Homo sapiens: one gene and its partners. The protein of the gene in region 2 interacts with the protein of the main gene of each other region in a pairwise test. Each region holds a gene or a part of one and is shown on either strand. Other genes may lie near its edges. The genes, in order: SYT2, NAPB, ALOX5AP and STX16.

Region 1 (7,026 bases), on a different chromosome or scaffold from region 2:
TGGTTCTAAGACCCGTTTATTGAGGACCCTCCAAGAGCGTTTTCTTATGTAAGTTAGATCCATCCATAGTTACCATATTCAAAATTAAAACTGAGAAATTTCTAAATTAGCTCAAAATACAATAGTAACTCATTACCTGTTAATACAACATATTTAATAAGTAACTATATTTTCCAAGACCAAAAAAATATATAGTAGACGTTTTCTCTAGTAAAATATCTAGTAAGAAGGAGGCCTTGTTTCACATCATTGCAAATCTCTTTAATGTGTGGTTTACTAGAAGGTAGCTAGAGTTTTATATCAACTTCGGTGTTCGGTCTGTCTGCAATACATTACTTTGATTGAAAGATGAAAGAAAATCCAACCTCACTCAGATATGTAACTGGAAAGGGGAGGGGTATTTAATAAAGCCTTTTCAGATCATTGTGGATATTTTTCTTTGATATGACATCACTGCTCCCCAAGTGGTAGCTTCTTAAAGACTGGCTGCAGTGGGGAATCTGAAACCTTGCACTTGGAATGCTTGTTTGCCTCTGTGCATGATTTTGTGACATCATTCATTTATCATTTCGAAGATATTGGCTTGCCGAATTGTGAAGATCTTTCAAATATTGATGAATTTCATTAAACAATATTAACAAATCACATCTATTACTATTCCCACTGATCTTATCACAAAAGTCCTTTTCATAGTAATATGTGTGAGTTTTCCAAAATTCTAATTTTTGCTTGAAAGCTTAAATTTTATCATTGGCCACAAATACTGCCAGTTGTTTTTCTGGAAGTGACGAGCTCACTTCGTTCATTTTTGCAAAAATGCCTGCTCAACACCCAAGTCTGAATAACTGGAGTTTGTTGGTTGTTCTTTCAGATAAAATGGTATCCCATGGAAAAATGGCTAGTTCAGCCTGCAACTCAAACAGATGCACAGGTGATGGGCACTGTTCAGTTGCTTGAGAAATTATTGTGTAATATTTCTGTAAGAAGCAGAAGTGCTTTATGTGTACTTCTCATTCCATCACAGAGAATATTAAAAAGATGTGCACTCCAGAATCAAGCTTCAATATAATTATAATCTTTGCTGCTTCATGAAAAGAAGACATTCTTAACTGAAAATGGCATTTCATTATTTACCAATTACTTTGCTTAGCGGGTGTGTAGTGTGGAAGAACACAAAGACGGGTGCAGTGTGATACTATTACCTTGATTCATGGTAAGGTGCCAGCAGCTTCACCCACCACTGCTTTAGCACCATCAATGTCAAGCATGGGAATGGCAAATAACTTTATTGCCATCATGGAAACTGCTTTGACCTTATGGACCCCCCTGAAAATTCTTAGGGACTCCCAGGGACCCGTGGCCCCCATCTTGATTACTGCTATAAGGTAAACTTCACAAGGGCCTGTTCCCTGTGTGTTACTGTCTCCATTTTCAGATGAGGACCCCGAAGTTCAGAAAGTTTAAGTAACTTGCCCAGGGTCACACAGGCAGGAAGTGGCAGTCTTGGTTTGACCTAGGCCATCTGACTCCCAGCCACACACACGCTGCTTCAGTTATGCCCTACAGAACATGCTGTGGGGGCCTCTCCTCTGCCCCTTCCCCATTGCCTCACCTCCTGAGGTCTTTGGGGCTCACGATCTACTCCAGGGGAGGCACGAAGACACCTCCAGGTTTGCAGTGGTGAGGACCTGGGCTTCTATTACTGTCTGCCCCAGGGCACCCCTGCCACCCTCTACCAGTAGGAGACCTAATGGGGGTGGAGCACGCCTCCCTGGGAAGCCTCAGACGTCTGGGGCTGGCTTGCCAATGGCAGGCTCAGTTCTTGATGCTTCCCTGCCTCCTGCAGCTGCAGCAGCAGCAACCAGCACAGTTCCCAGCATCAAAGAGCTAATCCAATTTCTCAGCTGTGCTTCCCCCTTCGCCTCCTGCAATGCCAGGATTGATTTGGAAACAGGGCAGCCTTATTAAAGTGATGCCTTTTCCTACTCGTGGGAGAGTCAAACTGGGAGAGGGAGCCCTCCCACAGCCAATTAACTCCATGCTTCCCGCTAACACTGATCCTAGCCACAGCCACCCTTGAGTTTCCTGGGGTTTACCTGTAACTCTTCTTAGCTCCTAGTGGTGAGGATGGATTTCAGTCCTAGGTCTGCTTCCCTCCAAGACCCAAGAGCACTTAACCAATAGGTTCTTGTTCATCCTTCCTGCACTTCTAGAGGGTTGCCTGGGTGGTCCCCTCTCCTCCTGCTTGCAGGCCTCCACCCCGTCTCCTAACATCCCATCTTAGGCCCTATGACCGGGCCGTCACTTGGTCCATCTGAGTTGGTACAATGAAAGATACATGGCAGACAGCCCCAAGAGGGATAGAGGTAAAGACCTGTACATTTGTTAAATGGGCTTTTCTCCAAATAAACACAGGAGGCAGAAGACAAGGACAGTCCTCAGAGACCTCTACCACCCTCAGCCCAAGCCCCTCTCCAGGCCCCCCTCCTTGCGGCCTCACAGCTCTCCTCTAATCTAGGGAGTTAAGGTGTAGCAGAAGCAGAGAAGGCCCCGCTCCAGAAAATGCTTCCTTTCTACAAATAGCATAAAAACTGCTTCCCGAGTCACTTTGTAGAAGAGGAAGGACATGCACAACACATCTGGATCATTAGTTCAGACTGGAATCAATGGTGAGGAAAAGAGATTTCTCTCAAACCACCCAGCCCTTAGGGAGCAGAGGTTCTCTGGGAAGGTCTTTGGAGCTCAGAGCACTGGCTGACCTTGGGGAAGGCATTTCTGGTCTGGAAAGGAAAAAATGAGCACCACCTCTTTGACGCTACCACCCTCCCACCCCCGGCCACCGCTCCCCTCCCTCCGCCGCCCATACACATGGCCCTACCCAGCTCAGCCCTGCAATACCACAAATGCCTCATTTGACTTCAGAGGAAAATGGAGCTAAGAGTAGGAGTGAGGAAGGGAGTAAAAAGAAGGGCGGGGGAAGGAACAAGTGGGGAGGGAGAGATGAAGGTACAAGGTACCCTCTCCTGTCTCTCACATGCACACTACTGCAGGTGGTTACAACTCTTTTCTGTTTCTCCACAGCTGAGCAGGAAACTGGGAGAAGAGCCCTTCTCCCCTGCAGCCTCTCCCTCTTGGCCTCCATCACCACTCTCCTAACCCCTGCCAAGCCCTGCATCTGATCCTACCTGAGCTAAAGAAGCAGAAGGTCCGGAGGGAGCCTGTGATTTTTGCCTCGGTCACCTCTTACAAATGCGGTGGGCTGCTGGGCTCGCCCTAACCCTGCATCACCCCCAGGCTGCTCCTTCAGTCTACTCGGGTATGGAAAGGGTTAAGCTCCTCCCATCCCCTCCTTCCTTCATCCCATTTCTCCATTCACTTCTATTTTCCCATATGCCTAGTGCCAAGCTCACAGTTACAACCACTTACACCCTGTATTAAGATGCATGGAATAGTAATGGGTAAATTCCGTCTCTAATTGCAATATTTCCTAATTACTAAATTCCAGAGCCACTGTATCAACCCAATTATGGCAAGTCCTGCCAGAGTTCTCCATGGTCTGAGGACTCCCTGCCTTACTGAGAGGCACCTGACAAATGCCTCGGGGGAGCTTTCCTGACTCCCCACCCAGCTGCTGTCCTCCCCTGGTCCCAGACTGTCCAGTGATGAGGCCCTTGGGCTTCTAGTTTCTCTGCAGGGGATGGGAGGAAGTGAAGCAAGCTTTGTGATTGAGGAAAGCCTTGTGTTGACAGGCGACTATCCTGGGGTTGGAGAGCATCTGGGAGCCCTGTCACTCTGCACCAGCCACCATCAATGCTCCCAGCTTCAGAACTCCACTTTGGGGGCTAGGGGGACCCAGGAGAGGAGGAGAAACAACATGCCCTGGCCTTGGGGAGCGCCCAGGCTGATAGAGGAGACACGGTTATTTTGAGTTCTCCTTTACATCCCAGGTGCCTTTTACAGAGTAGGTGCTTAGTGCATTGGAGTGGAACGTGGAGGAAAAGGCGGGAGGAAAGTAGGAAGTAAGGAAGGAATGGGGTGCTCTGGCTCAGGCTGAGTTTAGACTCTGGCTACACCTGCACGCAAGGGTTGACTTTTGGGCTGTGAGTCCCATAGGGATCTGACTTCTCAGGTCTGGAGTCTCCGAAGGAGAGAAGCAGTCACACACCCACTAACTCCCATTCTCCCTGCCTTTGCAAGGGGCCCTCCTCCCCAGCCCACCCCTAGGACCCTGAATACACACATATGCACACACACACGGCTGCTGGGCTTCAGAGGAGCCGTTTAATTGCCGAGTTGAAACCTGCAAGGGCTTTTGGTGCTGATGACATCAGCATGCCATCACAGATAGGGCTGCTGAGGCTGGAGCAGCTCTGGATTCAGCGGGGTGTCCCATCATGCACTCAAGACTGCCCACCCTGGGGCCTCCCTCCTTGCTTCAGAGCAGGTGTTCCTGAAGGAGGTGCCAGAGCCCTTATGGAGAGCCCAAGGAAACCCAACATCAGGGAGGGAGAGCTGATTCAATTCCTCCAAGGAATCACTGCCTAATTTTTGTAAAGGCTGCTGCCTGATTTAAATCACCCAGCCTCCTGCTTCTACTCAACGCGTTAGTGGCCTCATCCCAAGGACCCGCACCTGTATTCTCGGGCTCCATTTGCCATAGGTAGAGCTGGTGAGAAGCGGCGAGGAGAGGAGGAAGGGTTCTGACCACTCAGCTGCTGTGGCCTGGAAGGCCCCCTGCAAAGTGCCTATGATCTGGGGATTTTGAACAACCACACAACTTCTCTGGGGATTTTGAACCACACAACTTCTCTGGGCCTTTGCCCGTTCATTGTAAAGTGGGGACAGCGATGGCGTAGCCGAGGACTGCAGTGATGAGAGCTTGACCGCCCTTGTGAGCCGCTCTATCCCCGAGCAGGGGAGCAGGAGGCGCAGGGAGGAGCCCTGAGGTTCCCTGTTGTGCGGGACCCACACTGACTTTGCCCTTTCTTATGCCTGATGCTTAGTGTTACTGACAGCAAAAGCTGAAATCCTGAGGTCCCCGGCTAAAGTGACCAAGGAAGGGCCTCTCCTGACTTTACAGCAGCAGGTAACCCCCCTTTCTTTCAGATTTGGAGGCTGCTTGGCCATTTTAATGGACCCTGCTACTCACATCCTACTTCCCTAAGTGTGAGGGGCTTTCAGAATCTAACCTCCTCCCTGGCACTCAGCCAGCAGGGACTTTATCCTCATCAGAAAATGATCCAGGGAGGAAGCTTCTACAATATCTACTGCTCATCTTGGATTTTGGGAGTCCTTTTTTTTTTTTTGAGACCGGATCTCACTGTTTTCCAGGCTGAAGTGAAGTGGCATGACCATAGCTCACTGCAGTCTCGACCTCCTGGGCTCAGGCGATCCTCCTGCTTAACCTGGTGTGCCACCATGCCCAGCTAATTTTTAAATTTTTTGTAGAGACAGGGTCTCCATATGTTGCCCAGCCTGCTCTGGAATTCCTGGGCTCAAGCGATCCTTCTACCTCAGCCTCCCAAAGCGCTGGGATTACAGGTGTGAGCCACTGCACCTGGCCTGGGGAGTCCTTCTGGATGTTTAATTTTAGACCCAGCCTCTCTAGGGGAGGGGGCTGGCAGCTAGGTGTTCCCCTGCCCTCCAGGCTCACAGTGACTCTCAGGTCCCTCTGGGCCTGGATCCAAATTTACCCATCACTCTGGCTACTTCCTTGAACTGTCAGTTCCAGAGATGAAAATGAAGGATTGCTGGGACAAATCCTTCCCAGAAATCAAGCTTTGGCAAGAAAAGACTCATTAGGCATAAAAACCGTCTTCGAGTGAGGGGGATGAAATGCAGGACTGACCACCAAGACGGTGAGGGCAACTCCTTCCCTTGAGTTTTAAGAATATCAAAGGTGGACAGTGCTCCCTGCAGCTGGAGAACCCAAGACAGTGTTGTGTGTGTGGGCAGGAAAAGGAGCACGCAGGCCACCCAAGGATGAAAAGCACTTACTCCTCCCGCGCCAGGCACTGTTCTACACGCTTTACAGGAATTAACCCATTTCATCCTCACCAAGAACAATCTACGTCATAGTTACAAATTTTAGCTCCATTCTACAGATGGCAAGACTAAAAAACAGAGTGTGATTGACTCGCCCAAAATCACAGCAAGTGGCAGAACCAGGATGAACCCTGGCAATCTGGCTGTAGTCACTATACTGCCACTTAGAAAAAAATCTCTGACTTGATGTTTCTCCAATGAAACTATATTATTTATCACAGGCTTCTGGAGTCCAGGAGAAGCCATAACTGAATCCCAGCTTCTCTGGCCTGGCTTCTCTGACTGAGTGGAAGATGAAGAATCAACTTGTTGCCTATGGATGGATTATTCACGTAGGGAATTTAGAACTGCATCTGTCTGGTGGTCCAGGGGCTACTTCTAAAATAACACGAATAGTTATCAGTTCTACAATACTACCCTGAGAGTTAAGCATTATTACCTCTGTTCTTTAGAGAAAACTGTGCAGACATTGTCAGATCATCCTGTTACATGCTCTCGAAGCTTCCTACATACCTTCATAACTCTTGGCACAGTCATGATGAATTCTTTATGTAATTATCTAATTGTGTGGTATTCACTAGATTGTAAATGCCACGAGGGCAGGAAACAGGTCTGTTTTGTTCCCACCTGAATCTCCATTGCCTAGCACAGATTCTCAAAATGCAATAGTGGAACGAATGCAGAAGGGATGCTGAGTGGCTCAGTAACATGTGTAGGGCCTGCGGCTGTGCTCACCTCCCCACCCAGAGAGACTACAATAGTGGCACATGGTAGGTACTCACTAATAAAATACTTGTTGCAAATGTCAGACTTTGTACTTAGCAGCCCTGGGATTTGAACCCAGGCCTGTCTATCTCCTAGCCTCCATTCTTTGGTGCTTCATATTTAACCACTGCACTGAGTGACCCTGCCCCCCCATTACTCCCTCTGACTTGCTGTTCCAGTTCTTAAAGAGTATCCCCACCACCCTGGACCTTCAGT
Region 2 (7,026 bases):
CCAAGATTTCTATAGTCACAGCACAGAACACACCACCTCAACGTGGGAAAGTGTATAAACATGAAAATAATGAGCAGGCTATGCCAATTAAAATACTTCAATGTAAATATAAAGGGATTTCCACTCCAACTAAAAGTGAAAACTATCTCCAGAAAAAGAGAAAAATTCCATTTCTAACAGATCTTGTGATATGTGTGTGTGTGTAAACGCGTGTGTCTAAGTACAAATCAAATTCACTTTGACACTCATCCATACATGAAGCAAGTACTTCCAGAAAGCTCCCTTCCTCACAATGTGATGCCTACAGACCCTGGCTATTCTAAATTTTTGCCATGCACATGTTAGCATACGGAACAACACAAAAAGCAAAGAAACTAGTCACTAGCACCATCAAAATAATCACAGGATAACAAAAATAGAAATGATTTCTAATGAAGTTATAAACTCATTCCTAGTAACTGTCCTAAACTAAACACACATTTAAAGAACATATTCAGATGCCAAAGCACAGAGAAAATGCAAAGCATCTATGAGAACAACTGGGCTGAGTACTCAAGTCCAACAAAAAGGACATAAAAACACGTGGCAACATTAAACATAGGCTCCACAAATACCAATGAAATATGAGGAATGAGATTCTGAAGTACTTCTCAGAAAACGCTGGGGGTTCTGATAAGCATGAAACAACCCATCATTACCACAAGATGAACAGGAGCCTCTCCTTCATTCATTTCACAGCAACACAGACTTGGCGAGCTTAAACAATACACAGGCCGTCTGGCTCATATGCAACAAAATTAAGCCATTAAATAGGCATCCCATAAAGATCACTTGACCCTAAGACAAAACTAAAGAGGAGTTAGCTGCATGCCACAAAGACAAAAACATTTCATTTTAGGTCTCCATCTCCTTCTCCATCCCCTTGGATGGACTTTTTGATGCGAAGCAACATGGTGGTCAGCCACTGATCCAAGCGAGATATTGAGTCAAATTCCTTCACCTAGTATAAGGAAAGAGGAACAGGAATTACCCCATGTAAATACATTAAAAACACAAAATAATAGTACCCCAAGCTGTTTATACCTTTACAGCCATAATCTACTAACTTTCTTCATCATTTGAAATTAATCATTCCAGTTTATAACTTTCTTCATTAAAAAATTGTTTATTTTTTCATTATCCTGTTACTATTTTGATACTAGTGACAAGTTCCTGGGCTTGACATTTCTCTGTTTTCAAACGTGTAAGAAAAAAATTCATTAACAGTCATAATTATTGTGGCAAAAGTAACTGGATATTGTATAAAAATTTGAAAGGAATATGGAAAATTAATACTCACTGAACATGGGAAAACATTAATTACAGAGTTAGAATATGTATGGAAGCGGAATTAACACATTTCAATGCATTACCCAAAAATAAAATTACAATAGGATGAAAATGATGTGGTAGGCAAAAGTCAGACAGGAAAACATTCCTTTCCTCTATCACTCCTGAGCTGTGATGAACATGTTACAGGAGGCTACTGAGAAATTTGCTTGAGGCTGGATGTAGTGGCTCATGCCTGTAATCCTTGAAGTCTGGGAGGCCAAGGCAGGTGGATAGCTTAAGCCCAGGAGTTAAGAGACCAGCCTGGGCAACATGGTGAAACCTTGTCTCAACAAAAAATGCAAAAAAAAAAAAAAAAATTAGCTGGGGGTGGTGGTGTGCACCTGTAGTCCCAGGTACTTAGGAGTCTCAGGTGGGAGGATCACCTGAACCCAGGAGGTTGAGGGTGCAGTGAGCCGTGATCACACCACAGCACTCCAGCCTGAGTGACAGAGTGAGGATCTGTTTCAAAATATATAAAAACATTTTTTTTTGCTTGATTCTAAACATGAGATGGCAAAAGATGGAAAAACAAAAAGTATAAAGAAAAAAACCCTCATATTTTTAATATATATATATATTTATTATTTATTTATTTATTTTTGAGATGGAGTTTCACTCTTGTTGCCCAGGCTGGAATGCAATGGCGTGATCTTGGCTCACTGCAACCTCCACCTCCTGGGTTCAAGAGATTCTCCTGCCTCAGCCTCCCGAGTAGCTGGTATTACAGGCACACTCCACCATGCCTGGCTAATTTTTGTATTTTTAGTAAAGATGGTGTTTTGCCATGTTGGCCAAGCTGGTCTCAAACTCCTGATCTCAGGTGATCCACCCGCCTTGGCCTCCCAAAGTGCTAGGATTATAGGTGTGAGCCACCGTGCCTGGCCACCTTCCATTTATTTCATGCCACAAATACAGCAAATTCTCACTACTTAGTTTTTATATTTTAAATTATATTTAATTTTTTTTTTCTTTTTTTTTTTGAGACAGAGTCTCGCTCTGTCACCAGGCTGGAGTGCAGTGGTGCAATCTCAGCTCACTGCAACCTCTGCCTCCCGGGTTCAAGCGATTCTCCTGCCTCAGCCTCCCGAGTAGCTGGGACTACAGGCGTGTGCCAGCATGCCTGGCTAATTTTTATATTTTTAGTAGAGACGGGGTTTCACCATGTTGGCGAGGATGGTCTCAATTTCCTGACTCATGATCTGCCTGCCTCGGCCTCCGAAAGTGCCAGGATTACAGGTGTGAGACGCCGTGCCTGGCCTTAACTAATTTTACTTTATACTTATTTATGGGTCAGATTATTTTCAAAAGAAAAAATTAAAACAGCAAATTATAAGAATATAAATGGAATATTTGCTCCTGAACTAGTCTCACAGCTAAATTAGTTTTGAGTGTAAGTCGAATCTCAGCATGGCTAATGGAACTGTTTAATTTGTGTGATATATAAAAGGTGACGTTTGGAAAATACAACTTAAGGTATGCTGGAGTCATGTTCAAATAAATGTTTAGAATTCACATAATGAAAAGGAAAAGAAGTTTCTTTAACTTAAATCTTCAAATAATGTACCATGTCCCAAAAGCATAACTTACTGCTTCAGTGTAAGCTTCACTGTTCTGTTCTTCATGAGCTTCTAGGAGTTTCTGGTAGCATAAAAATATTTTAAAAAACAGTTCTGTAAGATGAAGTCCCATTTCTAAATATATACTTTAAGTATAATACCAATGTTGCCAAATATTGCACAAAACTGAGGAAATACTCATATACAAGTCAAGAGCCAAGTTAGGGATCTAGCTTCTGTAGTAACATTTCTCAGGTGCCTATTTCAGAACACAACTACATGTTTCTGACCTTAATTGCATTTGAACACCTATAATACGAAAGCAGGAAAGTACCAGGGCCCCTCAGTTAGCAGACTTTATAGATTAAAACTTCACTTCATACCCAATCCCACTTAGGTGTTGTCACCTAACAGAACAAAAGCATTTTTCTTCAAAGTTCTAATATTACTTACTTTCAATAATTTACATTCTCTTGAATCAGTAAATGCTGGAAACATTTCCTCATATTTCTCAAGAGCAAGCTGAGAGAGAAAAACCACTCATCAATTTCAGACTTACTAAACAAACAAAGCTTTCAACATTCTATCAGCTTCAAATAAGATCTACCTATATCCTATTAAGTGTTGAAAAAGTATGTAGTTAAACTCAAAAGCAGAATCAACATAGAAAATCTTTCTATTCTGAATTTTCCATTTCAATAAAGAATAATTTCTAAACTACTTTTTTCTGAGTTAGGCTGCTGCTGAGAAGACATTGTAAATGAAAATGAATTCTTAAACACTCACAGACCAGGTATCTGTATCCATCCATTAAATGGAGACGTTCTTAATACAGTCCAGATTCCAAATAAATTACATTTAGCTTCCTGCTCGAAGCTGACAGAAAGAACAGTTTCTCTTACTGGCTTTAGTTCTGCTCTTCCAACTCCAGACACTGGCCATGCCAAGGCTGCCTGTCTTTTTGCCTCTTGGCTCCCAGTGCTCACTGTGCTTTTCAACTTCTTCCCAGTCCTCACTCCAACACCATTTCTGAGCTTGCCTGTTGTTTTGGTTGTTTTTTAAATGGATATTATCCTACTCTTATTGTCTCCTCCCTTAGTTCCTTAATTTCTTTCTTTTTTTTTTTTGAGACGGACTCTTACTCTGTCACCCAGGCTGGAGTGCAGTGGTGCGATCTCAGCTCACTGCAACCTCTGCCTCACAGGTTCAAGTGATTCTCCTGCCTCAGCCTCTCAAGTAGCTGGACTTACAGGCACCCGCCACCACACCCAGCTAATTTTTTTATATTTTTAGTAGAAACGGGGTTTCACCATTTTGACCAGGCTGGTCTCAAACTCCTGACCTCAGGTGCTCCACCCCACTTGGCCTCCCAAAATGCTGGGTTTACAGATGTGAGCCACCACGCCTGGCCCCCTTAATTTCTTTAAAGCAAAACTACTGAAAAAAAAATGGTGGCTACCAGTGAACATATACATATATTTAAGCCTATAGCACTAAATATTCCCAGGCAGTGCCCCCCATTCAAGTACCAGGCTCTACACTGCTTAGCTTCTGAGATCAGACGAGATTGGGTGTGTTCAGGGTGGTATGGCTATAAACTATCAGGTAACTTTTGAGAACAGCTTTGACAGCTGTTAAAAGATTACAACTGGGACACATACCACAGAATAATACTTATTTTTAATGTACCCGTTTATTCTTGGTACTAACATCAAAATGAAATGATACCAAGAACAAGAGAGAATGTGTACGTATTCTTATGGGTGAAATCAGTCAATCAATGCTGAAGAACTCCTTACCTTGGCATTCAACTCGTCTACTATGAAGTGGCAGAGGGCAGCTTTGAAGAAGTAATCCTTTGCACTGTATTTCAACAAAGGATTATCCATTGTGTTTGCCCCAACCTAGGCACAGAACGCAGAGTTAAATTTAAAAGATTTACCCTCTTATATCAGGCAAAGTCATTCTCATCTGTTGTCCTTTAGAAAATAATTATGTATCTTATGTTTGTTTAGCTATGAAATATATTATTTTATCCGAATACCATATAGTAGAAATTTTACTAGACAAGACCATTAAATACATGAAGTCTTAACCAGTTAAAAATAGCTCAGAAGAATTCTGCTTCCAATAAGATGGAGTAAACATCCTTTCCCCTAATCCTCCCACTAAGCACTACTAAAAGCCCAGGTCATTTTCTAAAAAACAAACGTTTCCCAAGGGAAAACGTGGTAGTGGGTTCCCTCAGTTTTCTTTTCCCTTCCTATATCCATGGCATGAAACTGAAGAACCAGCAACCCAGAAATGCCAGTATGCACAGATAAAAAGAGAAGAGACAAAAGCCTGCTCTCTCTGGCCAAAGGACTAGAAAAGGGGCAGCCCAGCAAGAGAGAAAACACTTAGACAATAACTGCTCTACTCCAGCCAAATATCACAGAAAAACTGAGGCCCTAACTCCATTTACATCATCAAAGGCTGAAGAAGGAGTCCTAAAGTCCATTCTTGAAAGACTGTAAGAAGCACCCCAATACCTCTGCTTAGGAGCTTCAGAGAAGGCCAAATAGGGAGCTGAGGCTTGATCCCCACCCAACCCCCTGACACTAAGGCAGTGCAGACCACACTGGGAGCCTGCATCCTGTCTCTGTCAAGCAGGAAAGAGGTTCCCCTTCTTTCTCCAGCTGGTGTGCTGTCAGAAGAGGTCTAGTGGAGGGTGAAGACTCTCACCATACCAAGAACAAACCAGCACTGTGCTGGCAGAAACAGATAAGGAGAGGGGATGCCACTTCTGCCCAGGGCTGACTAGGCCCCTCAGGTGTCAACAGAGACCTGGTGGAAAGCTGACACTTCTACCTCCACCTGGCAGTAATGAGGTAACATCCCCACCTTCCCCAGCCAGAGGAATGTCAAAGAAGGCCAACTGAAAAGAGAACGTTTAAACAAGACCCAGTCTCATAACCTAATGTGCAAATGCCCTGTTTTCAATCAGAAATGACTTGTAATACCAAAAACACAGGAAGATCTCAAGCTAAATGAAAAAAGACCATTAACAGATGATGGTTCCAGATGACGGAAATGTCCAAAATATCCCACGAAGATTTTAAAGAAGCCCTCATAAAAATGCTCCAAAAAGCAAGTACAATAACACCTGAAGCTAATGGAAAAATGGAAAGCATCCACAAAGAAAAAGGAAGCCACAGGAAAAAAGATATAAAGTAAAAACAAATAAAAATTTCAGAACTGAAAAAAAAAAACAGTACCATACATAAAAAGTGGGTGGGCTCAACAGCAGGATGAAAGGGACAGAGGAAAGAAGCACTAAATGGAAGACAACAACAGGAACAACAGAGAGAAGACAAACTGACAAAAAGGAACAGAGCATCAAGGACCCATGGGATAATAAAACAGTCTCACTTTTGTGGCATCTGTGTTCTAGAAGGGGAGGAGAAAGAGAAAAGGGCTGGCTGGGCATGGTGGCTCACGCCTGTAATCCCAGCACTGTGGGAGGCCAAGGCAGGCGAACCACTTGAGGTCAAGAGTTCAAGACCAGCCTGGTCAACATGGCGAAACCTTGTCTGTACTAAAAATACAAAAATTAGCCAGGTGTGGTGGCAAGCACCTGTAGTCCCAGCTACTTGGGAGGCTGAGACAGGAGAATTGCTTGAACCTGGGAGGCAAAGGTTGCAGTGAGACAAGATTGCGCCATTAAACTGGCACGCCTGGGCGACAGAGCAAGACTCGGTCTCAAAAAAAAAAAAAAAAAAAAAAAGGAAGCTGAAAAAGTACTTGAAGAAATAACTGCTAAATGATTCTCAAATTTGACAAGAAACATAAACCTACAGATTCTGTAAGTTTAGGGAAACTCAAATAGCTTAAAACCAAATATATCTATCCAAGCCACATTATAATTAAACTTTTGAAACTAAAAGAAAAAAATTATGAAAGTGTCTAGAGAATAACACCTTTTTTATAGGGGAAAACAAGTTGAATGACAGCAGACTTCTTATCAAAAACAATGGAGGCCGACTAGGCGTTGTGGCTCATGCCTGTAATCCCAGCACTTTGGGAGGCTGAGGTGGGTGGATCACTTGATGTCAGAAGT
Region 3 (7,026 bases), on a different chromosome or scaffold from region 2:
AGGCATGTTTCCACTGAGCCACGGGCTGGATGCCACATCCCCGGCCTTCCCACAGTTATCAGCAGCCCACAGGCTTGACTTGAGCAAGTTGGAAAGACAAATCAACTTCCAGAGTTGATTTAACATTGAGTGGAAATCAGTCATACTTTTGGTCCCCTTTCGGGGCCACGCCTGGCACTGTGCCTGGTGGCAGATCGGCATGAACTGGCCAGCTTCTGTGGCCCTGGAGGGCACAGGCAGAAAGGCCACACTCAGTCCCATGATGAACTGTTTAAGACTTATTGTTGTCTCCCCGCTCTGTAAAGTAGATAGAGTGGATTTTATGTCCCTTATTACCTTTCAGGATACTTTGACTCAGGGAGATAAAGTAACTTGGGTACAGCTACTCAGCTGGTGAAGAACACAGGCAGAATGAGTGCCTGGGTCTTTTGACTTAAAATTCTGGATTTTTCACAAAGATCCTCTTACTTTATTCATTTACATAATAAATATATATTGAAGAGCTACTCTGTGCCAAGCCCTGTGCCTAGATATACAGTGATAAATAAAGAGTAGCTTCTAGAGGTCACCTGGCGGTGAGGCACAGGCCAGCTGGCAAGATGGACCACAGAAGTCAGTGAATGAAGACAATGACAAGGGTGGGAAGCGCCATATGGGAAGAGAACCAAGTTCAGTGATAGAGAGCAGAGGTGAGGCGGCAGCAGAAACCACTTAAGGGACACCACGTGGCACTCCTTCTGTGCTGAGAAGGCTGTCAGTAAGCTCACCATTTATTTCCTATTTTCTCTCCTGAGTTAAATAGGAAACATGTCTCGCATTACTTGAAAAATCAAGTCAAACTATGCTCTTACTAGGAGTTATGGTTCTTTTTATGTCTTAGATGATGCTTGATCTAGATGAATGCGGACTTGCTGTAGCTAGATAAATACAATGGGAGTTTGAAGGTGTTTCGTAGCCCTGGAAATAGGTATTTCCTGTCAAAACAAGCTTTGTCATTGCCAGCAGACAAAAGCATCAGTAACCTTGGTTGATAATCGTCATTTCTTAGGAATAAAGTAGACTGTAGAATTTTTTTTAGCAGAAAGGAAACCCAAAGATAATTCTAGTGCAAATCCCTCACTTTATAGAGCAGAAGCTCAAGTCCCAGAGGAACAAGTGGCTTGAACGAACATCAGAATTTTAGGGGCTGGATTTGTACCCTCCTGGTGCCAGCAGCCCACTTCCCTGCAGGAGGCACTCACCTTCCTTGCACAGGGGTATGAGTGTGGCCATTTTCCACCCATAATCTCTGTTAGCTCATGTTCAATTGGGTTCCCATTGAAAGAAAAATGGACCAGTAAGTTGGAGCAGAATCATTCAGATGGTATAACATAAGGAAAAACTTTGCCCAAGGCAAATCGTGATTGTGACAGCTTTGTGATTTTTAGAGAATAGCATGGGCCAGGCACAGTGGCTCATGCCTGTAATCCCAGCACTTTGGGAGGCCGAGGCAGGCAGGTCACTTGAGGTTGGGAGTTCGACAACAGCCTGACCAACATGGAGAAACCCTGTCTCTACTAAAAATACAAAATTAGCTGGGCGTGGTGGTGCATGCCTGTAATGCCAGCTACTCGGGAGGCTGAGGCAGGAGAATCACTTAAACCTGGGAGGCGGAGGTTGCGGTGAACCAAGATAGCACCATTGCACTCCAGCCTGGGCAACAAGAGTGAAACTCCGTCTCAAAAAGAGTTCACAGTTTCTCTTTTGCTTTGATTTTCTTATCTGCCGGATAACAATAGTATTTTGGAAGGCAGGAGGAATTGTGGAAAGAAATGGGTTTTGGGGAGTGGCTGATTGGAGGCAAATCCAAGGACACTCATTGCTGGTGTGTGACTCCAGGCAGTTACTCAGCTTTTCCAAGCCTCAGTTTCCTTATTGTAAAACAGGACCATGGTCTAGCTAGTAGCATTCCTATGGTGAGTGAAATAATATGTATAAAGCTCCTGACACAGTGCTTGGCATATATCAGATTGAGCCATGTAAAACTGCCAATATCTGGCTATTTATGACCTACAAAAATAGCATTTCATATGATTCCACCTAACATCTGAAGCGCAATAAATGTTATTATTGATAATGCAGGTGGTGGTGATAAAGTTTTGAAATCAGAAAGACCTGGCTTCAAATTCCACGCCTTCACTGGCCTGACTTATTTTCATTCATTTGACAAATATTATTTTGAACACCCCTATGTGCCAGGCACTATGCCAGGCTCAGAGATGATCTAGGAAAAAGACAGATGTCCTCATCTGTCTTAGGCTCTTGTGGCCTAAGCCTAAATTTCCTCGTCTGTCAAATGGTGACAGTAACACACTCCTTACCAGAGAGCTGGGAGGATTGGAGACTCAAGTTCCCAAAACGCCAGGAGCACTGCGGCAGGTGAAAAGTATTCCCTCAATGGCGGAAGTGTTTAAATTGCTTTTATATCTGTAGCTCTAGATAACACTAGTTCCAGCTTAGTTAACTCCCAGCTCCAAGCCTTCAGGACTTCATAGAGTTATTGGGGTGCTGCTCTTGGCAGTTTCCCAAAAAGCTAGAATGCAGAGGGAATCTCCTTCCCAAAAAGCTAGAATGCAGAGGGAATCTCCTTCCCAAAAGGCTAGAACGCAGAGGGAATCTCCTTCCCAAAAGGCTAGAACGCAGAGGGAATCTCCTTCCCAAAAGGCTAGAATGCAGAGGGAATGTCCTTCTCTTCTAAATGGTAGCTGTTAGTTCAAGAAAGGTTAAACATTGTGCTGTGGGGAGGCTCAGGGGTGAAGGGTGTACTTTTAAGAGAACCAGTTTCAGAGCTGGGTTTGGGGTTTAAGCCCTACCCTCTGCCCCCTTTTACGAGCTGACAGCCTTATGCAAGCCTGGTTGACCACCTGAACCCACGTTTCCACATCTGGAAATAGAAATGTGGGTACTAGTTATGTTGAAAGGACTCAGGTTAGATGATAGATATGCAAATACCTTGGAAACCAGGAGTGTCCAGTCTTTTGGGTTCCCTGAGCCACACTGGAAGAAGAGTTGTCTTGGGCCACACATAGAATACACTAACCCTATCAATAGCTGATGAGCTAAAGAAAAAACGTTGCAAAAAAAATCTCATATTTTTAAGAAAGTTTATGAATTTGTGTTGGGCTGTATTCAAAGCCATCCTGGGCCACGTGCGACCCGCAGGCTCCGGGTTGGACAAGTTTGTTGTAAACAATGCCATGATGCCGGCATAAGGTCGTTACCAGTATTAGGAAGGTTCTCAGGTTTCCTCTAGCCCTTGGGCTCTTTTCCTGAAGTGCGTGTGTCTTCTGCTAGATTTTGTGACCAATGTTGATTGCCTAATTGGGCTAACAGCATGTTTTGGTGGCTACGAAACTGACACAGGTGTTTTCATTTCTCCACTTAGTTCCTGCTGCGTTTGCTGGACTGATGTACTTGTTTGTGAGGCAAAAGTACTTTGTCGGTTACCTAGGAGAGAGAACGCAGAGGTAGGTAACTGGGACTACTAAAGAACTGTGGAGCGATTCCTGATTTTTGAGCAGGAAGAGTGACAATTCAAAACAGTATTTGACTAGATTCACGGCTCCGTAGCATCCCCTTGGGTGGGAGGGGGAAGGCTGACTAGGACCTCTGATTCTTCTTTCCCTGAGCTTTGAAGGCTCTGAAAATACAGCTGGGGGGACTTGCCCAGTTTTCTTATTAAGCAATTCCTCCGCATGGTGCTGGCTTTCAAAGGGTGCTTCAGTGCTGTTTGCTGCACGTGCCTTGCAGCCCCACACCCTGCACTCCCGCCCTGCAGAGTCTGGCGCTGGAATGACATTTTAGGTCTGGGTTCCCAGGCCTCCTGAGAGTGAAATGTTTCATTGTTTGTCTAGAGAAATGAGAACTAAAGCTTGCACCTTGTGATAAGTTGTCCTGAGGAACATATCTTTCAGGGACCAGAAGAAAGAATGTTGGGAAAATAAGATGCAGTAAGATGCAGACATGACAGCAGGGTGCAGCGGCTCACGCCTATAATCCCAGCACTTTGGGAGGCTGAGGTGGGTGGATCACCTGAGGTCAGGAGTTTGAGACCAGCCTGGCCAACATGGTGAAACCCCGTCTCTACTAAAAAATATACAAAACATTAGCCAGGCATGGTGGTGGGCGCCTGTAATCCCAGCTACTCCATAGGCTGAGGCTGGAGAATCGCTTGAACCCAGGAGGCAGAGGTTGCAGTGAGCCGAGATTGCGCCACTGCACTCCAGCCTGGGCAACAAAAGCAAAACTCCATCTCAAAAAAAAAAAAAAAAAAAAAAAAAAAGATGCAGACACGAGACTGTGAAACTGACTAGCATCACCATTGCATTGTTTATAGATGTTGCCAGACAGAAAGCCCCAAAGCAGCACAGTACCTTCCTGACATCTGGACTAGGAAATCTAGATTTTAGTAAAATACATGCTAATACTTACAGAAGAAATGTCGGCGTTAGAGTATGCCGTCAGTTCCTTAGAGATTGCAATTCCTAATGCACTAGTATGGTTTCAGGTGCCAGGAACACGTTCTGTGAGGCTGCTGCCCCAGGTGCTGACCCCAGCCTTCCACACCATTTTCCTTCCTTGTGTTCACAGCCGCTCTGTCTTTTACAATAGCACCCCTCTCTAGTGGCTAATGGGCTCTATGATTAGATAGCATCCTTCAGTAGTGATAAAGGCAGTGACATCCTAGGGAGGTCAGCGGGTGAAAGCGCTATATCTGGAAAACCTGAGAGCCTGTGAAGCTCAAGGACTTGACGGGGTTAGACCGTGAGCCGGGCTGCAGCTGGAAAAAGAATGACTGTTCTTTCAGCAGATCCTTCCCTGTGCCATCTCTTTCTTCATTCCTCTCTAGTGGCATTCTTATTTATCCTCTAAAACCACAATTCCATTATCTCTCCTATTCTTATCAACACTGCCCTAAATGATATTCTTTATTCTCTTTTGCCCTGGAAAACCTCTATCATGCCTTTTCCCATGTGATTACCTCGTTAAGAGTGGGGGTGGAATGTCTAGCAATGAAATAAGAGGGTCTTCTCTTTTGCCTGGCTCCCTATGCAGCCCTATCTTACCCCCTGCAAAGTCCCAGGGATGTGGCTCAGTCACTGCTCCTCTCTTCATCTGTCACCACTTGCTTGAGATCCTACAGCTGCTTTAATTCCGAGACCATCTGCAGAACATGACAAAATTTGTCCACCTACCCACATGTCCTTTTAACTTTAAAGGCTTTACTAACTGATTCCTATTAGGGAATGAACAGAGGTGGCAAAAATAAACAATAGGAGATTGATTTACAAGAAATCTTTAAAATAGTAGATTTCTTCGGACCTCATTGAAATATAAATGGCCTGCCTTCTTGTGTCCCTCCCTGGTCTCCCTCTTTAGGTGATAAGAAGAAGATCCTGCCAGCCCCATAACCCGCCATCTGCGCGGGTTCTAGACCCCCTTCTCCTCCCCTCTGGCCGTGGTAGGCATTACTGATGAATCATGGTGCTCTTTCTTCCAGAGACCAAACCTGGCCTCGGAATCCTTCTTAACACAGATACTGCTTAACACAACCACTCTGAGCAGCTGTCATAAGTAGAAGTAATAGATACTAGAAGAAATGTCTAAGCCTAATCTAGACCAAAATACGGCCTGATATAGATGCAAGCCAGAGGGGCTTTATGGTTAAATGCAAGGAGATTTTCAACCCTGCCGTCTAGAAGCTACTTGCTGAGATCTTCTTCAGTTGGGCCCATCTCCTCCCCAGGCCTCTCTTCTGTTCCTGGGCTATGTCACACTTGGACTCTGCAGACACCTAATGCTCTTGGGACCTGCTTTAGTTCTTGACCTCACCAACCGAGGAGGAATTGCTAGATGAGATCCTTCCCCCGGAATTTCTCTCTTGAACCCCAGATGGTCCGTTGCCCCTTTCCAGAAGTTGCTCCAGCCCTGTCCGCTTAGGAAGTTCAGTGTCATCCTTGATCCAGTGGGTAGGGAAGACATTCCATAATGAATGCCCCAGTCTGAGCTTCTTCCTTCAGGCTTCAGGCTGCCCTGCGAGGATTTTGCAGCTCCCTTTTTAATGCCCTCTAGAAGTTTCTGGCTCTTATTTTCAGCCCTTCATCCTACTCTCTCTGACCCCTTCCTCTATCCTGTTTAGTTCACCTGTAGCAGTTACTACCCAGCAGTGAAGGATGAATCTTGGTTTCGTTTCTTTTCTCTTCTTTTCTTTTTTCTCTTCTCTTTTCCCCTTCCCTTCCCTTCCCTCCCTTCACATCACCTCATCTCACCTCACCTTACATAGTCTTGCTCTGTCACCCAAACTGGAGTGCAGTGGCCTGATCTTGGCTCACTGCAACCTCCACCTCTTCCCAGGTTCAAGTGATTCTTATACCTCAGCCTCTTGAGTAGCTGAGACTACAGGTGTGCACTACCACACCCAGCTAATTTTTTGTATTTTTAGTAGAGATAGGGTTTAGCTATGTTGGCCAGGCTGGTCTCGAACTGCTGAACTCAAGCAATCTGCCATCCCCGGCCTCCCAAAGTACTGGGAGTATAGGCATAAGCCACCCATGATGCCCAGCCTGAATCTTGGTTTCTTCCCCATTCATTTAAGCTATTACCTGGGCCTGAACTCAATGGCACCTGGCACCAACTGGCAACTGACTCTTGGTCTTTTATTACCTACCTTCCCTAGCAGGCACTGGGTTGCTCCCTCTTCCTATCCCATGGAGTCCTGTCCTCTGTTGGGGCTCCTACTGATCCTCTTGGCAATATGAAGTTCTCAGCTCAATGGTGGGTGGGCAATGACTGCCAACTCTTGAGGCCAATGAACTCAGGTTACCCCACTCCTCCTCCTCCTGAGTTGCTCACTCACTCCTCATTCACTCAACATTGATTCAGTAGATATTTGCTACCTGCTCTGTGCCAGGTACCAGGTCAGTTGCTGAAGGAGTAACAGTGAACATGACGGAGTCTTTGTCCCCAAGGAGACCCAAGGTGTCTCCT
Region 4 (7,026 bases), about 35 Mb from region 2:
CACAGGTACCTACGCTGACAGCTGGAGGACTTCAGGGCCTCTTGAGGTCCCTCTGAGAACTTCAGGTTGGGAAATGACTCCAGGAGACTGATTCTGAGTAACACTCTAGTTTCTGAGATTGCCATGAGAAGGCTCGCTGGTTTCCCCAGGACTCACTTGCACTCCTCACCTGAGTGATCTCTTGGGTAGTTATCTCAATGGCATGTTCCTCTTCGCTGCTGTCATCCAGGGTGGGTCTGTTTAAATGCTTGTCATGAAGGCTGGCCAATTCTTTCATCTTCTGCTTAATCCGGCCAACATCATACTGAATCTAAGCAAATGAAGTCACAGAACTCCACTGATGCCAGGCAGGCTATGGTCTGCCTCCATCAGCTACACTCAGCATACAGAATTCGGTCTTCAGCAAACTTGTTGGCTTGCTGATGTGTGAGCAGCTTTTAATTCAAATTACCAGAAAATCACATTCTTCCTTGTTGCATGGGGTTTCAATTTCTTCCTATAATTCAGGTAGTTACTACCAATGTTAAAACTACAGCTAAAATCATTAACACACACATAGACAACTTAACCTAAAGCTAAAGTATTTCTAGAAATATACATTCAAGTGTAGCCAAATTCGTTTATATGACAGATATCTTAAAATACATTGTCATAATTACTTAAAAAAACAAGATGCTATGAAACTAACATGGAACTTACTTCATCCACTCCATCCACCCACTTAGGAGGTGGCCGTTTTGTCACACCAATCGCTGCTTCTGGATCTAAGCTGATGCCTGACACCAGTGCCATACGGTCATCAGCAAGCTACAGGAAAGTAAAGGGACATGAAAAAAATTATTCTAATCCAATTTAGATACAAATACTCTTACTCTCTCTTAAATGTTACTCCCTGAAAAGATACAGAAAGGAGTGAATGTTTACTCTCTCTTAAATGTTGCTCCCTGAAAATATATAGAAAGGAGTGAATGCACTTGCCTGTATTATAAACTTGCTTTTGATAACTGCTAGGATTTGGATTGTTTTCCTATCTTTTCATGCACCAGCTCTTAATTTCCTTGGACATACTTCAGAACGTAAATTTGACTTGATCTGGCTATAGAAATGTAATGAAAAAGTCAACAAAAGATCCTTAAAATAAAGACCTCTTACTACTAGTACTGTGATAGAACGGCATGAACCTCAATGATTCTTGTGATCAGTTGCAAGTGAAAAAAAAAACTAGGCAGTAAATGAAACAACTACAAAATGCTCAATAGTAGCAAGGTTTACTTAAATACACTTAGCTTATTTTGGAAATAGGGCTGATCCAGTTATCTCAGTCACACAATCATTAACCATGTGTTAAGATGTGTGAAACAACTGCCTAAAACCGCTAGCAAATTATCTACCATTTGGCAAAAGCAATCCTTAAGATCTCAATGCAATCTTACACTGTCATTTCTTTTCTTCAGTTAAATGTCCACAGGGAACATTTCCCCTTATTTTGAAATGGTATCGATGGTTCCTGTTTATTTTAACTATATAACACACTGCGGTAGAAAGCTTTTAAGAATGGGAGGGAAATCGGCTGGGCGCGGTGGCTCACGCCTGTAATCCCAGAACTTTGGGAGGCCAAGGCGGGCAGATCATCTGAGGTCAGGAGTTCGAGAGTAGCCTGGCCAAAATGGTGAAAACCGTTCTCTACTAAAAATACAAAAATTAACTGGGCATGGTGGCTTATGCCTGTAATCCCAGCTACTCGGGAGGCTGAGGCAGGAGAATCCCTTGAACCCAAGAGGCGAAGGTCGCAGTGAGCCATGATCGTACCATTGCACTCCAGCCAGGGCAACAAGAGCGAAACTCTGTCTCAAAAAAAAAAAAAAAAAAAAAACACACACACACACAAAAAACAGAGGGAAATCATGGGTTTGGCACGGTTAAGCTGTTTTCTTGCCTGCAGGCAGTGAATGGGTTGAAAAGATTTTGAGGTGCCCTCCAGAGCTCAGAATTTTTAAATGCCAGTTTCAAAAGATCCAAATGATGATCAAAATATAATGGAAAATAATCTATAAAAGCCCTTTATAGATAATACTTTGGAAATTTTCTAAATCACACTGTAGAGTTGGGTGAAAAATTCATATTGCTTTTCTTCCCTCTTCCTTGCATTTAACTAAATTTATTTTTTCATTCATTAAATACTTATTTGCTTTTCTAATAATAAAGGAACAAGACAAAATTTTAAAATCCACAGATGAAGGGGGAAAAATATCATATAAAGAAAAACTTAGAATAAAAGACCACTTCAAGTAATAGGCCCTAAATCCTAAAGAGTTCACAGTAAAATTCTTAAAAGCAAATTGGTATCTTCACCATCAACCTCCCTGCATGCCCTGGAGTGGTTCTGCCACCATCTGCTTCAGGCTTTCTGTGTGCTCTGGGGCACGTGTCCACTCAGGGAACGCATCTTAGGCAATGACCACGCTGGAAGGACTAGGCCCCATTCACTAATCCCAGCACGTCCAGGAGCCGTGATTAAGCCCAACGGTGCTCAAGCGTGGCACGGATGCTGCAGGGCCAGTGTCATTTCTTAAACAAATGGTGTGTCATCCAAACCCGCACTGTCTGGGGCTCCCGGGCCGTGAAGTGGTAATTCTCCACCACCACTACCTTCTGTTTGGTTTCAAGAGTTCATCAATAGGAATTTTACATTCTTGACATTATTTTAATCCTCATAAAAACTAGGTGAGTTAGAAACTATTATTCTAACCTATAAATATGGAAATTGAAACTCAGAAAAGTTAAGTCGCTTGCCCAAGGTCACAGAGCCATTATGTGACAGACTGAAACCTGGGTCGGCTGACTCCAGAAACCCCTTCCACCCTCAAAGGTGCCAATCACTCCACAGGCCCATAAACTATAACTGCAATTTGCTAAGAAAATGAATCAAGACAAGCCATCAGATTAAAACAACAAAACACAGTAGTTTGATTCATTTCCCACCAACTACACCAGGCACTATAGGACAGGCCGCCAGTGAGTGACGTTAGTGTCAGTAAAGATCATCCTCTCTTACTGACCATCCGTGGACAGAGAGGCGCAGACCTCACCCTCTACAGAGCAGGCACAGAGAGGGCCTGTGCCAAGCACTCAGAGGCAGACTTGTTTATTCCTCAACACTCCTGCTCCAAAGTCACCAAGAGGTACACAACTCTGTGGAGGACACACTGACTAAAAAGCAGGGGGACAAACCACAGGCCCAGCTCGCAGCACCTGCCAGCCATACATCAGGTGCTGTCTACAGTATTGCTGGACTGGAACAGAACTTGAACTCCAGCTGTTTATACAAAGTAAAATCTAAAATTGCTAAAGGACCTCTTCATGGGTCCTAGAATTTCCACTACACCAGTTTATTATCGAATCCACTATATTTTATTATTACACATTTCAATCAGTAATTATTTATAGTGATTTTAGAGTTTTTAAGCTCATGATCTTATTTTGTACTGTTTTTACTGTTTACAAATACACATTAAACTAAAGAAGACAGAGAGATGGTATCTATCTAAATTTACCTGCATTGGGATTAGTATCATTTTATCCAAAACAACAAATTATAAACCACATATGAAAAGTCGGTTGAAGTGAATACAACTCTTTGAAGCAGTACTTGATTTTATGCATGTGTTCCCCTCAAATTAGATGTAAATCAAAAGTGGGGAGAACACACTCTTTGTTAAGGGTCCTAAGGAAGCTTGCTAATTAGAGATTCCTACATGAACAGCATGGATGCCAGCCTGCTCAGCTGGTACTAGCTTTCCCACACATTGTATCAGAGTTTTGCCAGTAAGATAGAACAGCTGATTCTTTGGGAATGAAAACTTTAAATAGCGAATAATTTGTCTCTTTTATGATACAGTCTATAGCTATAGTTCATTATAATAAAGAAACACCACCCTATTGAGAAGAAATGTGTCATTTCTTTTAGCAGTATGGATTTGTAATGTGTATCACAGTATGTACTATTAAAAAACAAGACAGTATGTTTTGGGAAGGGAAAACAATTGTTGAAGATAAGCGTCAACTATTTGAAATGGGAACAAATATGGACATAAACAAATTTTATGTGCAACATAAGCACCCTTTTAATTTCAGAAACCTCACTTTCCATTTAAAAACATGTCTTCTTATTGTTGAAGATCCAGCATATGTATCAATTTTCAAGCTGCCATCCTATTTCATACAGATCTTAAAAAATGGCCAGGTTTCTAATTCTCTCTCCTTACCCTTACTGAATTTCAACATGGTGCCCCCTCCAAATATATGATGTTGGTTTGTGCAGCTGGCCATGGTGGCTCACGCCGGTAATCCCAGCACTTTGGGAGGCTGAGGCAGGCGGATTGCCTGAGGTCGGGAGTTCAAGACCAGCCTAGCCAGCACGGTGAAACCCCGTCTCTACTGAAAATACAAAAATTAGCCGGGCATGGTGGCATGCACCTGTAATCCCAGCTACTCGGGAAGCTGAGGCAGGAGAATCACTTGAACCCGGAAGGCAGAAGTTGCAGTGAGCCAAGATCGTGCCAATGTGCTCCAGCCTTTTATTAAGACAGAGCGAGACTCCATCTCAATACATAAATAAATAAATAAATTTGTGCTTCTGAAGTAAAAAAAAAAAAATCCATATTTTTTAAATAAAAATTGTACTTAAGAGAATTAAGAATTCTTGCCTCTTTGATATGTAGTTCCTCTCTCCAAGAACTACTGGGGTCCGCTACCCTAACCTAGAGCCATCCTTCCTGAGAGAAATGCAGAAAAAATCCAACAGATGTTCAAAACAGCACACCCAATGGCTTTCCTGCCAGTCTCACTAAAGGTATCTTTTGCCTTTGATCCACTTCAAATGTTGACATTTGTCCATTTAAAGAGTACCAGCCAGTATGGACAAGTTCTCCATCTATGGAAAGAACATACACATTCTCTCTTATAAATCTTGCTGTTCCAAATCTATGGCCCTCCTACTCTTAAAAACCCTGCCTTTCCCTGAAGGCTGATTTAGTGTAGACTAAGATTACAGAAATAGCAAAGCCTCTGTGGAGATTGGAAAAGTCAGCTACACCTCCTCCCCATCTAAAAAAATCAACTAAGTTTAGCCGTAACGCATTGGTAATGAGAACAATACCGATAATTCTGGACTGTCTATGGCAATGAACACTTGGAAAGCCCAGAAGGGACACTGAAAATCAACAGACTGGCAACTCACACTTCCACGTGAAACTCTGGGAGCCTGTATGATGAAGTCAGACTACTTCGCTAATAGACAATTAGGCTTAAGAAATCCGAGTTGTTGGAGAAGTGAATAAGCATGTGGATAAAAGAAAAAAGTGATGTCAGCACTACATTTTTCTAAACCCGTAATAATTTTAAAATAATGCTTACCTTTTCTAATTATGAAATTAGTAAATGGTCAAAATAAATACTTTTAAAATGGCATAGGATGACGCAGTGGCTCACGCCTGTAATCCTAGCACTTGGGAGGCCAAGGCAGGCGGATCACTTGAGCTCAGGAGTTCGAGACCAGCCTGAGCAACATGTCAAAACTCCGTCTCTACTAAAAAATACAAAAATAAATAAATAAATAAAATAGCCACGCATGGTGGCACGCACCTGTAGTCCCAGCTACTCAGGAGGCTGAGGCAGGAGAATCGCTTGAACTGGGGAGGCAGAGGTTGCAGTGAGCCGAGATCGCGCCACTGCACTCTAGCCTGGGCAACAGAGTGAGACTCTGTCTCAAAAAAATAAAAATAAATGATACAAAAAATATAGAGATAAAAACACTTGAGAATCACATCACCCTGATACTGTTGTTAAGTTTCACTGATTTTCCTTTTTTCTCAACTAACATACATACTCTGAGGGGAAGAAAAAGGAGGGGAGCAATCCGTCCCTCCCTGCCTTCTGTGAGCACTGTACTGAGCACTGCTACTGACCTGGCCCATGCCAGTCCCAAGAACAATCCTTCAGAGGAGCGCCGCTCCCTATTTCACCAACATGGACACTGGGGCCCGGCCCAGGCACTCCCAGATGTGCAGTCCTCCAGGCAGTGTGGTTTGGGGGCTTGACATTTGTTATCTTGTGACTTTTAAAATAATTCTTGAGTTTAAAAACTCCCAGAGATTTCTTTGTCATAAGACAGGAAGTAGATTAAAGACAGAGAACAAAGGAGAGGGCCAGACACTTCCCTGGGTAAGAGAACCAATGGTGGGCTCGGGTCCTCCTCAGGGAACACCTTACTTAGTGTTTTCTGAGAAGGAAAAGTGACATCTCCAGGGTACTCAGGCTAGAGGAGGAGAATGACAATCAAACATGGACAGACTGCAGGAAGCCTCTGAAGTGAGGCCGTCAGATGCCTTTACTCTGGGAGATGCAAGTGATATTCACTCAGGGACATTTGCTCAGGCCTCCCCTATAAAGGGGTGGCTAACATCTAATCCACTCTGGAGCTGGGTGTTCACTATTTCCAGAGATGCCAATGTGAGGCCCTGCGTCAGCTTCAAAGAAGCCTCTGGACACTGTCCCCAACCACACCCCCTGCTCCTAGGCCAGTACCTGGCACTTCAGAGTCCTGAACGCACAATCACAACCAGCTGAGTGATCCGACAAGAAACGAGTGGAATGAATGCACGAGGTAAATAAAATGTACGTCACAGACAATTGTGGAAGCCACACTTCATGAAAAAGATAACGGCACTGCACAAAAGAGCAAAAGAGGCAAGTGAAACGCACAAGGAAATGAGGTGGCCGTGGGCACCCACGATGAGGCAGCAACCTGCATTTCTAATAGCACTGGGGTGAGCGTGGAGGAGATAGTGCTCTCTACGCAGGGCCTCTGATCACAGAGCGTGAAGACTCCCTTTTAAGCCCTTAGAGGTGAAACATAAGAAAAGCAAAAGGGCCTGCCAAGTTCATGCAGTGAGTAGCCAGTTTCTGGAACTTGCTGCCTGAAAAAGGAAGTAGGAAAGACTGGAAATCGGTTCAGACAGCAGACCC

Evidence for each region.
Region 1: the proteins of NAPB (region 2) and SYT2 interact in binary tests that used the Homo sapiens proteins (3 or more experiments, as listed by UniProt).
Region 3: the proteins of NAPB (region 2) and ALOX5AP interact in binary tests that used the Homo sapiens proteins (3 or more experiments, as listed by UniProt).
Region 4: the proteins of NAPB (region 2) and STX16 interact in binary tests that used the Homo sapiens proteins (3 or more experiments, as listed by UniProt).

What each region holds. Positions count from the first base shown.
Region 1 is NC_000001.11:202,700,430-202,707,455, forward strand, and holds part of SYT2 (synaptotagmin-2), read right to left. Parts: intron 1-7,026. UniProt on the Homo sapiens protein: Exhibits calcium-dependent phospholipid and inositol polyphosphate binding properties. May have a regulatory role in the membrane interactions during trafficking of synaptic vesicles at the active zone of the synapse.
Region 2 is NC_000020.11:23,376,487-23,383,512, forward strand, and holds part of NAPB (beta-soluble NSF attachment protein), read right to left. Parts: intron 4,832-7,026; coding exon 4,727-4,831; intron 3,450-4,726; coding exon 3,381-3,449; intron 3,010-3,380; coding exon 2,959-3,009; intron 1,001-2,958; coding exon 890-1,000; 3' UTR 1-889. UniProt on the Homo sapiens protein: Required for vesicular transport between the endoplasmic reticulum and the Golgi apparatus.
Region 3 is NC_000013.11:30,752,520-30,759,545, forward strand, and holds part of ALOX5AP (arachidonate 5-lipoxygenase-activating protein), read left to right. Parts: intron 1-2,991; exon of another isoform or gene 2,992-3,080; intron 3,081-3,424; coding exon 3,425-3,506; intron 3,507-7,026. UniProt on the Homo sapiens protein: Required for leukotriene biosynthesis by ALOX5 (5-lipoxygenase). Anchors ALOX5 to the membrane. Binds arachidonic acid, and could play an essential role in the transfer of arachidonic acid to ALOX5.
Region 4 is NC_000020.11:58,661,271-58,668,296, reverse strand, and holds part of STX16 (syntaxin-16), read right to left. Parts: intron 808-7,026; coding exon 700-807; intron 311-699; coding exon 170-310; intron 1-169. UniProt on the Homo sapiens protein: SNARE involved in vesicular transport from the late endosomes to the trans-Golgi network.